Regions from separate parts of the Homo sapiens genome. Here regions 1 and 2 are each linked to region 3. Evidence: fine-mapped expression QTL. A gene starts in region 3. Each other region holds a variant in brackets. All regions are shown on one strand. Distances are between the middles of the regions.

What was found. PIP is the estimated chance that this variant, and not a neighbour inherited with it, causes the effect. A credible set is the group of variants that fine-mapping cannot tell apart.
Region 1: its variant is the best candidate, but not a certain one, in a credible set for the expression of RDX in lung (TOPMed, PIP 0.63).
Region 2: its variant is the best candidate, but not a certain one, in a credible set for the expression of RDX in fibroblasts (GTEx, PIP 0.78).

Annotation. Positions count from the first base shown.
Region 1 is chr11:110,362,859-110,367,210 of GRCh38, reverse strand. It overlaps LINC02732 (long intergenic non-protein coding RNA 2732), which reads right to left. Exons shown (of 4, transcript NR_135100.2): 2 at 677-850. Among named protein-coding and RNA genes, the nearest start is that of LINC02732, 9.9 kb to the right of the region's middle. RefSeq lists an enhancer at 3,432-3,953 and a silencer at 4,013-4,307. The variant G/AG (reference allele first, on the strand shown) is at 2,463.
Region 2 is chr11:110,237,825-110,242,176 of GRCh38, reverse strand. All of the region lies in intron 10 of RDX (radixin), which reads left to right. Among named protein-coding and RNA genes, the nearest start is that of RDX, 57 kb to the left of the region's middle. The variant G/A (reference allele first, on the strand shown) is at 2,698.
Region 3 is chr11:110,294,673-110,298,672 of GRCh38, reverse strand. It overlaps RDX (radixin), which reads left to right and starts at 2,059. Exons shown (of 14, transcript NM_002906.4): 1 at 2,059-2,206. RefSeq lists silencers at 1,677-2,476, 2,527-2,576, 2,587-2,686, 2,817-2,876 and an enhancer at 2,090-2,962.

The sequences.
Region 1 (4,352 bases), 68 kb before region 3:
AAAGGCTTCTTAAGCCCTGGATAATTGAAGGTGGTATGGGCTTCAGTCTTATCTGGCTCTCAAGTATTTCTAATATCACCAACCCCTTTGATTTCTTAACTGTGGAATGAAAATAATGACAGAAACTTTAGGCATCTCATTATATGACTATCGAGGGAGAGGTTTGGGAGTGAAGGATCCTTTTAATACTCCTCAAATCCAGAAATTATTTACTACCAAGTTAATAAAACTATTTCAGGACCTTCCTCCCATCCACCCCACCCCACCCATTTGTATTAATCCCTTTCAAAACCTTATAACTAATTGTGAATTCATCATTTCATATTTTTAGAAGGCCCACAACACTAGATCCACCATTGCCAAAGCACACCAAAATACTCTTTGACAACTTTGTAAACATCCATGCTCTGAAAGGTATGGGGGGAATATCTGTAAGCTCCCCACTGAACTAAAGTTCTCCAGGCCAGGGACCAAGCTTCCCACACTTTTCTAACCCTGTTGCCTAGTACATGTCTGGCACACTTCAGGCATTCGAAAACATTTGTAGGACTGTTGAACAGAAGTAACTATTCATGGATAGGTAAAAGCCTCCCTAAGTGTTTTCTTATTCATGGGATAGTTGAGAGTAAATTCTTATAGAGCTGTGTCTGGTGGCTAGCAGAAAGGCTATACCTACTCAAATCAACAGGCCGCACAGAAAAGTCTCCTTGTCCCCAGAAGGGCCCTCGGGAGTGACTGGAGAGCAGATCCCGCCAGGTCACCACAGTGCTACACTTCAGGTTGGCTCTGTGCCCGGCTGAGGAAAAGGAATCTCTCTCCCCTCCTTGAAAACATGCCTCAGCATATTTATCTGTGAAACAGAGAAGAAAACAAATATGGTATGTGATTTACAAATTCGCTCAAACAGGAATGCAAACTGGTGTGAGACACCAAATGAGAAGAGTGAGAATTTAAATGCCAGTGCCCTGTGATGCAACAATTCCCCCTCTGGGTGTACACCCCAAAAAATGGAAACAGGGGCCGGGCACGGTGGCTCACGCCTGTAATCCCAGCACTTTGGGAGGCCAAAGCGGGTGGATCATGAGGTCAGAAGATTGAGATCATCCTGGCCAACTCGGTGAAACCCTGTCTCTACTAAAAAATACAAAAAATTAGCCGGGCCTGGTGGTGGGAGCCTGTAGTCCCAGCTACTCGGGAGGCTGAGGCAGGAAAATGGTGTGAGCTGGGGAGGCGGAGGTTGCAGTGAGCTGAGATCGTGCCACTGAACTCCAGCCTGGGCAACAGAGCGAGACTCCGTCTCAAAAAAAAAAGAAAAAAAGAAGCAGGGACTTGACCAAATATTTATACACCTGTATCATAACAGCCTTATTCATAACGGCCAAGAGCTGAAGCACCCCAAGTGCCTATGGACAGATAAGTGGATAAACAAAACATGGTGTACACATGCAGTGGAATATTCTTCAGTCTTAAAAAAGAATGACACACCTTTAATCCCAGCACTTTGAGAGGGCAAGATAGGTGGATCACTTGAGACCAGGAGTTTGAGACCAACCCAGGCAACATGGCGAAACTCCATCTCTACAAAAAATTAGCCAGGCGTGGTGGCATGTGTCTGTAGTCCCAGGTATTTGGGAGGCTGAGGTGGGAGGATCACTTGAGCCTGGGAAGTCAGGACTGCAATGAGCCATGATCACACCACTGCACTCCAGCCTGGGCAGCAGAGCAAGACCCTGTGCCCGGCCCAAAAGTATTTTTAATGTCACTGAACTGTACACTTAAAAAGAGTTAACATGGTAAATTTTATGTCTTGTGTATTTTACTATCTAAAAAAAAAGAACAGGCCGGGTAAAAAAACAGAACGCCTGTAATCCCAGCACTCTGGGAGGCCGAGACGGCGGATCACGAGGGCAGGAGATTGAGACCATCCTGGTTAACACCGTGAAACCCCGTCTCTACTAAAAATACAAAAAAATTAGCCAGGAGTGGTGGCGGGCGCCTGTAGTCCCAGCTACTTGGGAGGCTGAGGCAGGAGAACGGCGTGAACCCAGGAGGCAGAGCTTGTAGTGAGCCGAGATTGTGCCACTGCACTCCAGCCTGGACGACAGAGGGAGATTCCATTTCAAAAAAAAAAAAAAAAAAAAAAAGAAGCCAAAATAATACTATCCAGGTGGAACTAGGAAGTAAGGAATATTTCTCTATATTTTATGAATATAAAAATAAGAAGGAATTGAATATTTATTCCATAACTGCTCTGTAATATAAATATGAATTATTTGCAGATATTAATGATAATGCTAATATCTAATGAGGCCCATACTATGTGTCAGGTAATGTGCTAAGGGACTTATGTATACTATCTTAATATTCAAAACCATCCTATGAAGTAGGTACTATTATTATCTTCAATTTAAAATTCAGAAAATGGAGGTTTAGAAAACGTAAATCCTTTTCCCAAGACCACA[G/AG]GTTAGTGAGTAGTAGAACTCAGATCTGGCCTCAGATTTCCTAGCTTTGAGCACCTTGCTCATTTCACATTTTGGGTTCTGTTTCTTACAATCAAAATGTTTGTGTTTTTTTGTTCTTGTTTGTTTTGTTTTTGTTTTTGTTTTTTTCCTTTTTGAGACAAGGTCTCGCTCTGTTGCCCAGGCCAGTGTGCAGTGTCGCCATCTTGGCTCACTGCAGCCTTGACCTCCTGGGCTCAAAAATCCTCCCACCTCAGCCTCCTGAGTAGCTGGGACTGCAGCAGCCATGCACTACCACACCTGGCTAATTTTGGGTTTTTTTTTTTTTTTTTTTAGAGATGGGATCTCACTATGTTGCCTAGGCTGGTCTTAAACTCCTGGACTCAAGCAATCCTCATGGCTTGGCCTTCCAAAATGCTGGGATTTCAGGCGTGAGCCACCACACCTGGCCTGTGGTTGTTTTTGTCTTAAGTTAAACACTTCTTTAAGGAATTTGTAAGGATGGGAATTTGAATTAGGAGACTCCAAATGGCATTTATGTGTCCAGAGGATATAAGAGTTGAACAGCAGCACTTCTTACAAAATTGTGCCTAAAACAATGCCTTGGCAAGCTGCCCCTCATATTCACTGAGGAACCGAGGTACTCAAGTCAAAATCCCAAGGTAAAGGGACTGGGAAGACACTAGCAACAGTGACCATGTCTTCCTTTTCAGGTACAGATAATTTTGTAAAATAATTCTAAAATGACACTGTAATTTTTTTTACTTTCAGACTTCATAGCTGTAATTTCTGACACATTGCTGAGTATTAATTTTTAAAATAAGCATAACCTGGGCAAAACATTGGAACCAACTGAGAGATCTAGTGATTGTATTCTGATAATTTATATTAATAGGAATCTGCCTTTCCCCCAAAGGATTAACTGGATGCATTACTGTATTTGCTTTTCACGTGTATGTGTATTGCGTGTGTGTGTGCGTGTGCTTGTGCATGTATGTGTACTGTGTGTGTGCGCTTGTACACAAAATGGTGGATGAGCACATGTATTTACCTCTTCTATCTTCCACATTCCCATAAAAGTGACAGAAAATATTCTTTAAAGAAAATGAGTGAATAACAGCAATAGGAAACAAGAAAGAGTGTCATCAGCACACAAGAGTTTTGGGAAATTTCTAAAAGATACAAAGCAGATGGATGAACTGATGAGAAACTGCAGGCCAGGGCACAGGAAATAAGTATGTGTCTTCCCAAGGGGGCCCAGAGAAACTCCTCACTTGGTCAACAATACAATGATGGGCCGTGCGGGCAATCAACAGTGGCCTCATTAAAGAACTGGATTCAGTGCCTTGGGACAGCTGGGCCCCTTTCCTGTGACCTGTGTAAACAAAGCTAGGCAGCTGAGACTTTTGGCCTCGGGCTACAAGCCAGGGCACTGCTTTTTAGAAAGAAAGGGCAGAGAGAGTGTTCCTCCGGAGGGTCTTGTAGCTTAAAAGGAGATAACTGAAGAAACTTTGAATCTCTACATTTATAAACTCAGAGGGGAAACAATCAAACTCAAAATGCGTCTCTACCTCCTCCTGGGGAAGCTCAGGTTCCCCAGCCTTCTTGCCTACTCTGCCCACAGGAAACCTACAGGGAAGCCTTCCTGTCCAAAAGTCCTGCCTACTTACACAGAACTCGTGCCAGTCATTCTATTCAGGGAAAACCTTCCTGGAGAAACAAACCTAAACAATTGAAGAGGAAACCCACACAAGCTGGTTGTGCTAAATTAAGGCATTTGTTTGGTTCTGAATTCATTCAAATGAATAGACAATAGAGAACACCACACTTCTCAGGAAAAACAATACAAAAGTGAAAGCTTTAGAAAACAAAACAACTGACCCAAAGGAAAAA
Region 2 (4,352 bases), 57 kb after region 3:
CCGGCCAGTTTTTTGCCGTTTTAAGTAATGTAGTTCACTGATGCAAAATATATTGGGAATGTTGTGCAGCCATCACCACTATCCAGCTACATAATTATTTTCATCTTGTAAAACTAAAACTCTGCACCCATTAAACAATCCCCATTTCCCCCCTCCCCACAACCCCTGGCAACCATCATTCTACTTTTTGTCTTTGTGATTTTGAGTATTCTACCTGTATAAGTGGTATCATACAGTATTTGTCTTTTTGTGACTGGCTTATTTCACTTAACATAATGCCCTCAAGGTTCATCCACGTTGTAGCATATGTCAGAATTGCCTTCCTTTAAGGCTGAATGATATTCTATTTGTATACCACATTTTGCTTATCTGTTGATGGGCACTCAGGTTGCTTTTGTGTTTTAGTTATTGTGAATAATACTGTTATGAACATGGATATTCAGGTATTGGTTTGAGACCCTACTTTCAATTCTTTAGTTATTTGTTTGCTTGTTTAGATGGAAGATAAAACCATGAGCTTTGTGGGTGTTGTTTTATATATCAGTCAATCAGATGAAAAGAATTAATTATTAAAGTTTGAGGCTGGGTGCAATAGCTCACACCTGTAATCCCAGCACTTTGGGAGGCCAAGGCGGGTGGATCACCTGAGGTCGGGAGTTCGAGACCAGCCTGGCAAACCTTGTGAAACCCCATCTCTACTAAAAATAAAAAAATTAGCTGGGTGTGGTGACACACGTCTGTAATCCCAGCTACTCCGGAGGCTGAGGCAGGAGAATTGCTTAAACCCAGGAGGCAGAGGTTGCAGTGAGCTGAGATCGTGCCACTGCACTCCAGCCTGGGCAACAGAGTGAGACTCCATCTCAAATAAAAAAAAGAAAAAGAAAGAAAGAAAAGTTTGATAGGCCAGCTTGATTATCTGAATTTTAGAAGGCAGATTCTAAAATGAGTAATCGTAGAATATCGCTATGGTAACATCCAGTGCCGTATACATTTTGTCTTTATAGCCAAATAGCCACATAGAATTTTTATATTATTTATTTTTTATTGAGGTAAAATATACACATATAATACAGAATGTACACATCTTTGCCCCCCCGCCCCTTTTTTTTTTTTTTTTTTTGGAGACAGAGTCTCACTCTGTCGCCCAGGCTGGAGTGCAGTGGTGTGATCTCGGCTCACTGCAACCTCCGCCTCCTGGGTTTAAGTGATTCTCCTGCCTCAGCCTCCTGAGTAGCTGAGGTTACAGGCGCCCGCCACCACACCCAGCTAATTTTTTGTATTTTTAGTAGATATGCAGTTTTGCCATGTTGGCCAGGCTGGTCTCGAACTCCTGACCTGAGGTGATCTGCCCACCTCGGCCTCCCAAAAGTGCTGGGAGTACAGGCATGAACCACCGTGCCTGGCCATTTTTACCGTTTTTTTTTTTTTTTTTGAGACGGAGTCTTGCTCTGTCGCCCAGGCTGGAGTGCAGTGGCGCCATCTCGGCTCACTGCAAGCTCCGCCTCCCGGGTTCACGCCATTCTCCTGCCTCAGCCTCCCGAGTAGCTGGGACTACAGGCGCCCGCTACCACGCCCGGCTAATTTTTTTTGTATTTTTAGTAGAGACGGGGTTTCACCGTGTTAGCCAGGATGGTCTCGATCTCCTGACCTCGTGATCCGCCCGCCTCGGCCTCCCAAAGTGCTGGGATTACAGGCGTGAGCCACCGCGCCCGGCCTATTTTTACCGTTTTTAAGTATACAGTTCAGTAGTAATAAATACATTTCTATTCTTTTTCTCCTCCCTTCAACTCCCCCCACCCACTTCCTGGCCTTTGATAACCACCAGTTTATTTATCTTTATGAGATTTAGCTCTGACATATGAGTGAAAACATGCAATAGTTGTCTTTCTGTGCTTGGTTTATTTCACTTAACGTGATGGCTTCCAGTTCCATCCATATTGCTGCAAATGACAGGATTTCATTTATTTTTATGGCTGAATAATATTCCATAGTGTATGTATACCACATTTTCTTTAAGCACTTAGGTTGACTTCATGTTTTGGCCATTGTGAATAGTGCTGCAATAAACGTAGGAGTACAACTATCTCCAATATATTGATTTCCTTTGTTTTGGATATTGCTGGATATTGCTGGATACTATTGCTGGATATTGCTGGATACTATGTTTTGGATATTGCTGGATACTATGGTAATTCCGTAGTTTTAGTTTTTTGAGGACTCTATATTGTTCTACATAGCGGCCTTACTAATTTGCATTCCCACCAACAGTGTATGAGTGTTCCTTTTCTCTACATCCCCGCCAGCATCTGTTACTGCCTTTTTTTTTTTTTTTTTTAAAAACAGAGTCTTCCTCTATCACCCAGGCAACCTCCACCTCCCGGGTTCAAGTGATTCTTAGCCTCTGCCACCCAAGTAACTGGGATTACATGTGCCACCATGCCCAGCTAATTTTTGTAAATCCCAAAGTCCTGGGATTTACAGGCGTGAGCCACCTTGCCCAGCCTTGCCTGTCTTTTTGATACAAGCCATTTTGACTGGGGTGAGATGATATCTCATTGTGGTTTTGATTTATATTTCTGTGATTATAGTGATGAACATTTTTTTCATATAGCTTTTGGCCATTTGTACGTCTTTTGAGAAATGTCAGTTCAGATGTTTTGCCCATTTGTAAACGAGATTATTTGGTTTTCTGCTATC[G/A]AGTTTGAGCTCTTTATATATTCTGGTTTTTCGTCCTTTTTTAGATAGACAGTTTGTAGACACTTTCTTCTATTCTTTGTTTATCTCTTCACTTTGTTGGTTGTTTCTTTTGCTGTATAGAGCTTTTTAGCTTGATGTAACACCCATTATCTCTCTTTGCCTGTGCCTTTGAGGTCTTACACAAAAAATCTTTGCCTAGACCAATGTCCTTCTTTCACTTCTTTGGTTAGATTGATTCCTAGGTGTTTTACTTTTTTTTTTTGGCTATGGTAAATGGAATTGCTTTCTTGGTTTCTTTTTCAGATTGTTTACTGTTGTTATATATAAATAGCTACTGATTTTTTTTTTTAATTTTAGTTTTTAAGAAGAGATGATGTCTCACTCTGTTGACCAGACTGGTCTCAAACTCCTGGCCTCAAGCGGTCTTCCCACCTTTCCCTTCGAAAGTGCTGGGATTACAGGCGTGAGCCTAACCAAAGCCTAACCAAAGAGTCATTCTTCTCCAACCCTCTCAAAACCTTCCAAGTGTTTTTTTTGTTTTTTTTTTTTTTTTTTGAGACAGAGTCTTGCTCCGTCGCCCAGGCTGGAGTGCAGTGGTGCAATCTTGGCTCACTGCAGCCTCCGCCTCCTGGGTTCAAGAGATTCTTCTGCCTCAGCCTCCCCAAGTAGCTGAGATTACAGGCGCCCATCACCATGCCTGGCTAATTTTTGTATTTTTAGTAGAGTCGGGATTTCACCAGGTTGGCCAGTCTGGTCTCAAACTCCTGACCTCAAATGATCCACCCACCTCAGTCACCCAAAGTGCTGGGATTACAGGCATGAGCCACAACACCTGGCCTAAAACCTTCCAAGTCTTAACTGCAATTACTCAACTAGTTCTGATCAAGACCAAGAAAATTAAGAACAGTAAGTAAAAGCTTGTAAGTTACAGTTAGCTTTCAAATTTCATGACATATAGATTTTCTTAGTATACAGTAAGGGAAAATAATTCTTTGTAGGACCTTGTACTGTCTTACTAGGTGGCATTCTATTGTCTTCTGTCACAGGGCTTAAATAATTGTCAAAATAATATTTAAAGTTAGTACTGTTAAACTCTCTTAAAAATTTATTTTCCTTTCCTGTTCAACTCATTGGAATAAGAAAAGAGTTGATTTAGTGATCTATGCACCTAAGGATTAAAATTCATGTTATTTATCTCCCAATATTGCTTATCTTCATGCTTTAGGAATGAATATATACCAATAACTCACATTTTTCAATAATTCATATAATCACATCAAAATTCCTATTTTGGGGTCAGTAAATACTGTTTTCAATCTTAATTTCTTGGATTTACTTATTAGTTTAGATAAGTAAAACCTTAATGGAAGTTTTGAAATGTATTATAGATTTCTGAAACATGGCAATTTGTTTACTGAGGTCAAAACTTCAGATGGAGAGATTATTTTTTAAAAATAAAATAGTTACGTGCTTGTAGCCTTTTTACATAACTTGAATTGCAGAAGATTTTCATTTCTCTTTAAAAATTATTAGGCTTTTGCCAAGTTGGAAACGAGGTATAGCGCCTGTAGTCCTAGCTACTTGGGAGGCTGAGGCGGGAGGATTGCTCGAGCCCATGAGTTCGAGGCTGCAGTGAGCTTCTGCACTTCAGCCTG
Region 3 (4,000 bases):
GGAAGTGCGGGGATTACAGGCATGAGCCACCATGCCCTGCCATGAAAGTTCTTAGGGGTTGAATCACAGTGCCAAATAGCTTTATAAAGAGATTATTTCAGTTTACACTCCCACTCACCATGTCTGAGAGTACCCTTTTTATCTCACCAGCCTTGACTGTTATCTTTCACTTAAATATTTACTAATAGGATACCCAACTAAAATGTTGCAATTTTTGGTCTGTTTGCTGTTGCAGAAGATAGGATAAAATCAAGGCTTTTGGAGTCAAACATATATTTGGGTTTGGTCACTGCTCTGCCACTTCCTAGTTTTGTTACATTGGGGAAATTACTTACCTCTTTTTAAGCTGTCTTATTCATCGATTTTTTTTAAAGGGTCAATAATAGTATTTATCCCAGAGGGTTTTTGTAACCATTAAAAGAGACAGTCATGTAAAAGAATTTCACACCAGTGTCTGGCACCTGACCAACAACAGTGAATCCTTCACTTTCAGTTGCAAAAGTGTGTTATATAATTTCATTTGATTAGTGTACTATGTAGGAATTTACATAATACTTTTTTTTCTTACCTACTTCATGGGAAGTATTACGTAATACTTTGACTATGCCTGCAACCTGATGTGGTAGGCTGAACAATAACCAGGATAATTCTTGCACCCTAGGGAGAGGTAAGGAGTGATCTTTTGGTGGTCCCTAAGAACCACAAGAACCTATTTGGTCGCAAGTCACACACCTGGTTCCCATCCTTGAGGAATTTGCTATCTAAAGGCCCTTGAGTTTAACCCTTGAGTCTCTTGGGGGCTTTTAATTGTTCGGAGAGGTCTCAAAGGGCAATAGTGGAAACTCACTGAAGAGGCAGGCTAGTGAAAGTGATTTGCAGATATTTCCTGGAAAAGCTACTGTCTCACCTAAGGTAAATGCTAAGGCAGGAAGTATAGGAGTTATTTGTCCTATAAAAGTAAGTATACTCAGGCGTTTTGTTATTTGAATCTAAAGTTTGTTCACAAAAGATAAGCTAAAAAAAGTATTGCAAACAGGGCAAGCCAGGCGAATCTGATTTTGTGCGCTTGCTGTTTGTATACTCATAGCAAGTTTTGCTCCCTGAATCATCCCAGCAGACAATACTGAGGGGACTCAGCATGGATTAGATGACAGAAGACTGATCCAGAAGTCAGGAGCTTCCTGTCTCATCCCAGCCACTAACTAAAGTGAGTGGGCTAGACTTAGTCTTAAGATCGAATGCCTAACTTTCTCTAAATCTAGAATTATGTAGGTTTGGCGGCTCTTTGGGGCCCTACTTCCAACTTTTTCTTGCTAACCAACTCCTTCCAACTGCCAAAGCATGTCGTTGGTAATAAAAAATTATCACACATCCTTGCTTGGATTAAAATTTGCACTCCTGATTTGGGGTCTTATCCATTGAGGTTTTGGTGAAGTTTGAAAATTGTCGCTGAAAAATTAAGTTTTTCTAGTTGGCTAAAACCTGCCAAAATAATGTAAACGTTCTTTGTTGCAAATCTAAATTCCGCTCAGGTAGGCCCTTTTCTCCTTCCCAGTCCAGGATCTTCAAACCTAACAGCCAAGTCTCACGCTTCATTTGGTCCCCGGCTCCCTCTGGGAAGAATTCCTCCTCTGGGGGCGACGGCAACGCCCTCAGTGAGTTTGCTGGCACCAGCGGGAGTTTCAAGTTTCCACTCGTTGGGGAGGCGGCGGGCACACTCCGAGCTTTGGGCTGGGCGGCTCCGCTTCCCTCGACCGCAGGTTTAGCTGGAGCCCAGCGCTCTCTGGAAGGGCTCGACCCTCCGGCGCATTCGCCCTATTTCCCTGGGCGCTCCCGAGCCCGCAGCCACCCACCTCGCGTTGGCCGGCCCCAGACCGCGACCCCCGGCCACGCCCGGAGCCAGGCCTGCGGCTGCGAGCCTGCGGGAGGGGCGGGGCGGGGGCGGCCCCCAGCGGCGGCGTTGGCGCTCAGTCCGCGGCGCGAGGACGGCCGGCCGGCAGGGGGAGGCGGGGGGGCGCCGGGCAGCCCCGCCTTTTCCCGCGGAGGCGCCGAGCGGCCATATTGCGGAGCTGTCTGCGGTGGCGGCGGCGCCTCTCGTCTCCCGCGGGCCAGCGCTCGCACCACCGCTTCTCCCTCCCTGTCGCAGCCGCGCCGCCGCGCAGCGCCCCAGCCACACGCCGGCGGGCAGAAGCCGCCCGCTCTCCGGGTAAGGCGCGGCGCCCTCCCTTCCCCCACTCCCCGCTCCCGGTTCCTCCGGAGACGCTAAGGTGGCGGCGCGAAGTTGCGGGGCCCGTGCTGCCCGGCCGTGGCGCCGCCGCCAGGGCTTGGCGCGCCTCCGCTCGCGCCCAGCTGGCCGAGGCGCCACTGTGGTAACGGCCCGGCCGGCCAGGCTCCTCCCGGGGCTGGTAGGGGCCGCGAGGCCCTGCCCGAGTCGTGGCTGAGCCGCGGCCCGAACGTGCCTGGCCGGGCCAAAGTCGACCTTCGCCGCCGCGGGATTCTCCTTTCCTCGGGGCGCGGAGTCTGCCTTCAGCGCCGGTGTCGGACCCCCAGCGCCCTGGGGACGGTGGGCTCCCGCTGCCTGGACTGGGCCCCGGGCCCGGGCTGGCATGGTCCCAAGGGTTGTTTGAAAATCCAGATATTCAGCGTAGGTAGAATTCGATTTTACATTTATTAGAACTTGTTCCCCGGCCTCCAGTTTGAAAGGAGGGGTGTTAAATTACTAGAGAGCGTGCGTTCCGCCCCAGTGGCAAAGGGGATGTTGCATGACAGGCTTTGGGGCGCCAGTCGCTCCCGCCGCTCGCACCCGCCAGGCCAGGGCCGCGGTTCCCGGCCGCAGCTCTACCTGCTGCTGTTGCAGCTCTCGGAGCCCTGTAACTTTCTCGGGCCCTTGAGGCCGCTCAGTTTTAGTGTCTCAGACCCCACCAGACAAGTTCAGTACATGATATCCCTCTTTTCCTTTAAAGGATTCTAAACTCAATTCCCGGACTAACTTTGAAAGGGGGCAGTGCATTTTTGTTTTTTTTTTTTTTTCAGTTTAAACAGACTACATCACTTCCTAGACAGATGTCATGTTTCTTCAGACATTCCCAATATTTGGTGGTTTTTTTTTTTCCTTAAAGAGTAGTTACTAGGTTGGAAATGTGTTAAAAGTCAACTTCATAAAAATATATTTTAAAATACATTTGAGATTTTGGTGGAAGACACGTTGCTGAGGAACTCGATGGCATTCTTGTGGCACTAAGACTGGCAGGATGTAAATATAAAAGTCTAAGATAATAAGGGTTTATTTGATAAACGAGTACTTTGACATAGACATTGTAATCTATTGTTTAAGGAGCATACTTCTTTTTTTTTTTTTTTTTTTAGAACACTAAATACTCTTTTATATGACTGATGGAGCTAAGAAGGAACAATTACCCCGTTCATGTTGCTGGATAAATAATGGCTTGATCCATTTGCCAAAACAGCATCACTGGATTTGAGAAAGGAGACTAATATTCAGGATTGCAGTTTTTTATTTTCAGAATTTCTTTGCTTTCCCCAGTGTGCTTTATCTTCCAGAGATTAATAATACTTTCCTTCAAATACAGCAACATGTAAAACACTCCTTTTGAAGTTAATCGTATGCTGTAAAGACGATTGCAGTGACTTTCTTTGCTTAATCGCTTTTTTATATATGATGGAATTTAATAAACAGTTGGTATATTATTAGCAAGGAATGAATAGACATTGGCATTCTTTACAGTTTTATTTAAATGAGACAGAATTTGATTGTGGCATTGAAAAAACGTTGAGTTCTTGACCTTAGGAATCACATACAATGTTTTGTTCACTCCTGTATCCCCACACATGGAAGAGTATGTAGGAGAGTCTCAGAAGTAGCTGTAGAATAGATGTAATTAATTTGGGTGTAGGGAAAATACGTTGAGTCTGTCCTTTTGTTTTTTTTTTTGAAATTGTGATTAATTAACTGAAAGTCAAATTGATTACTTTCCTTTTG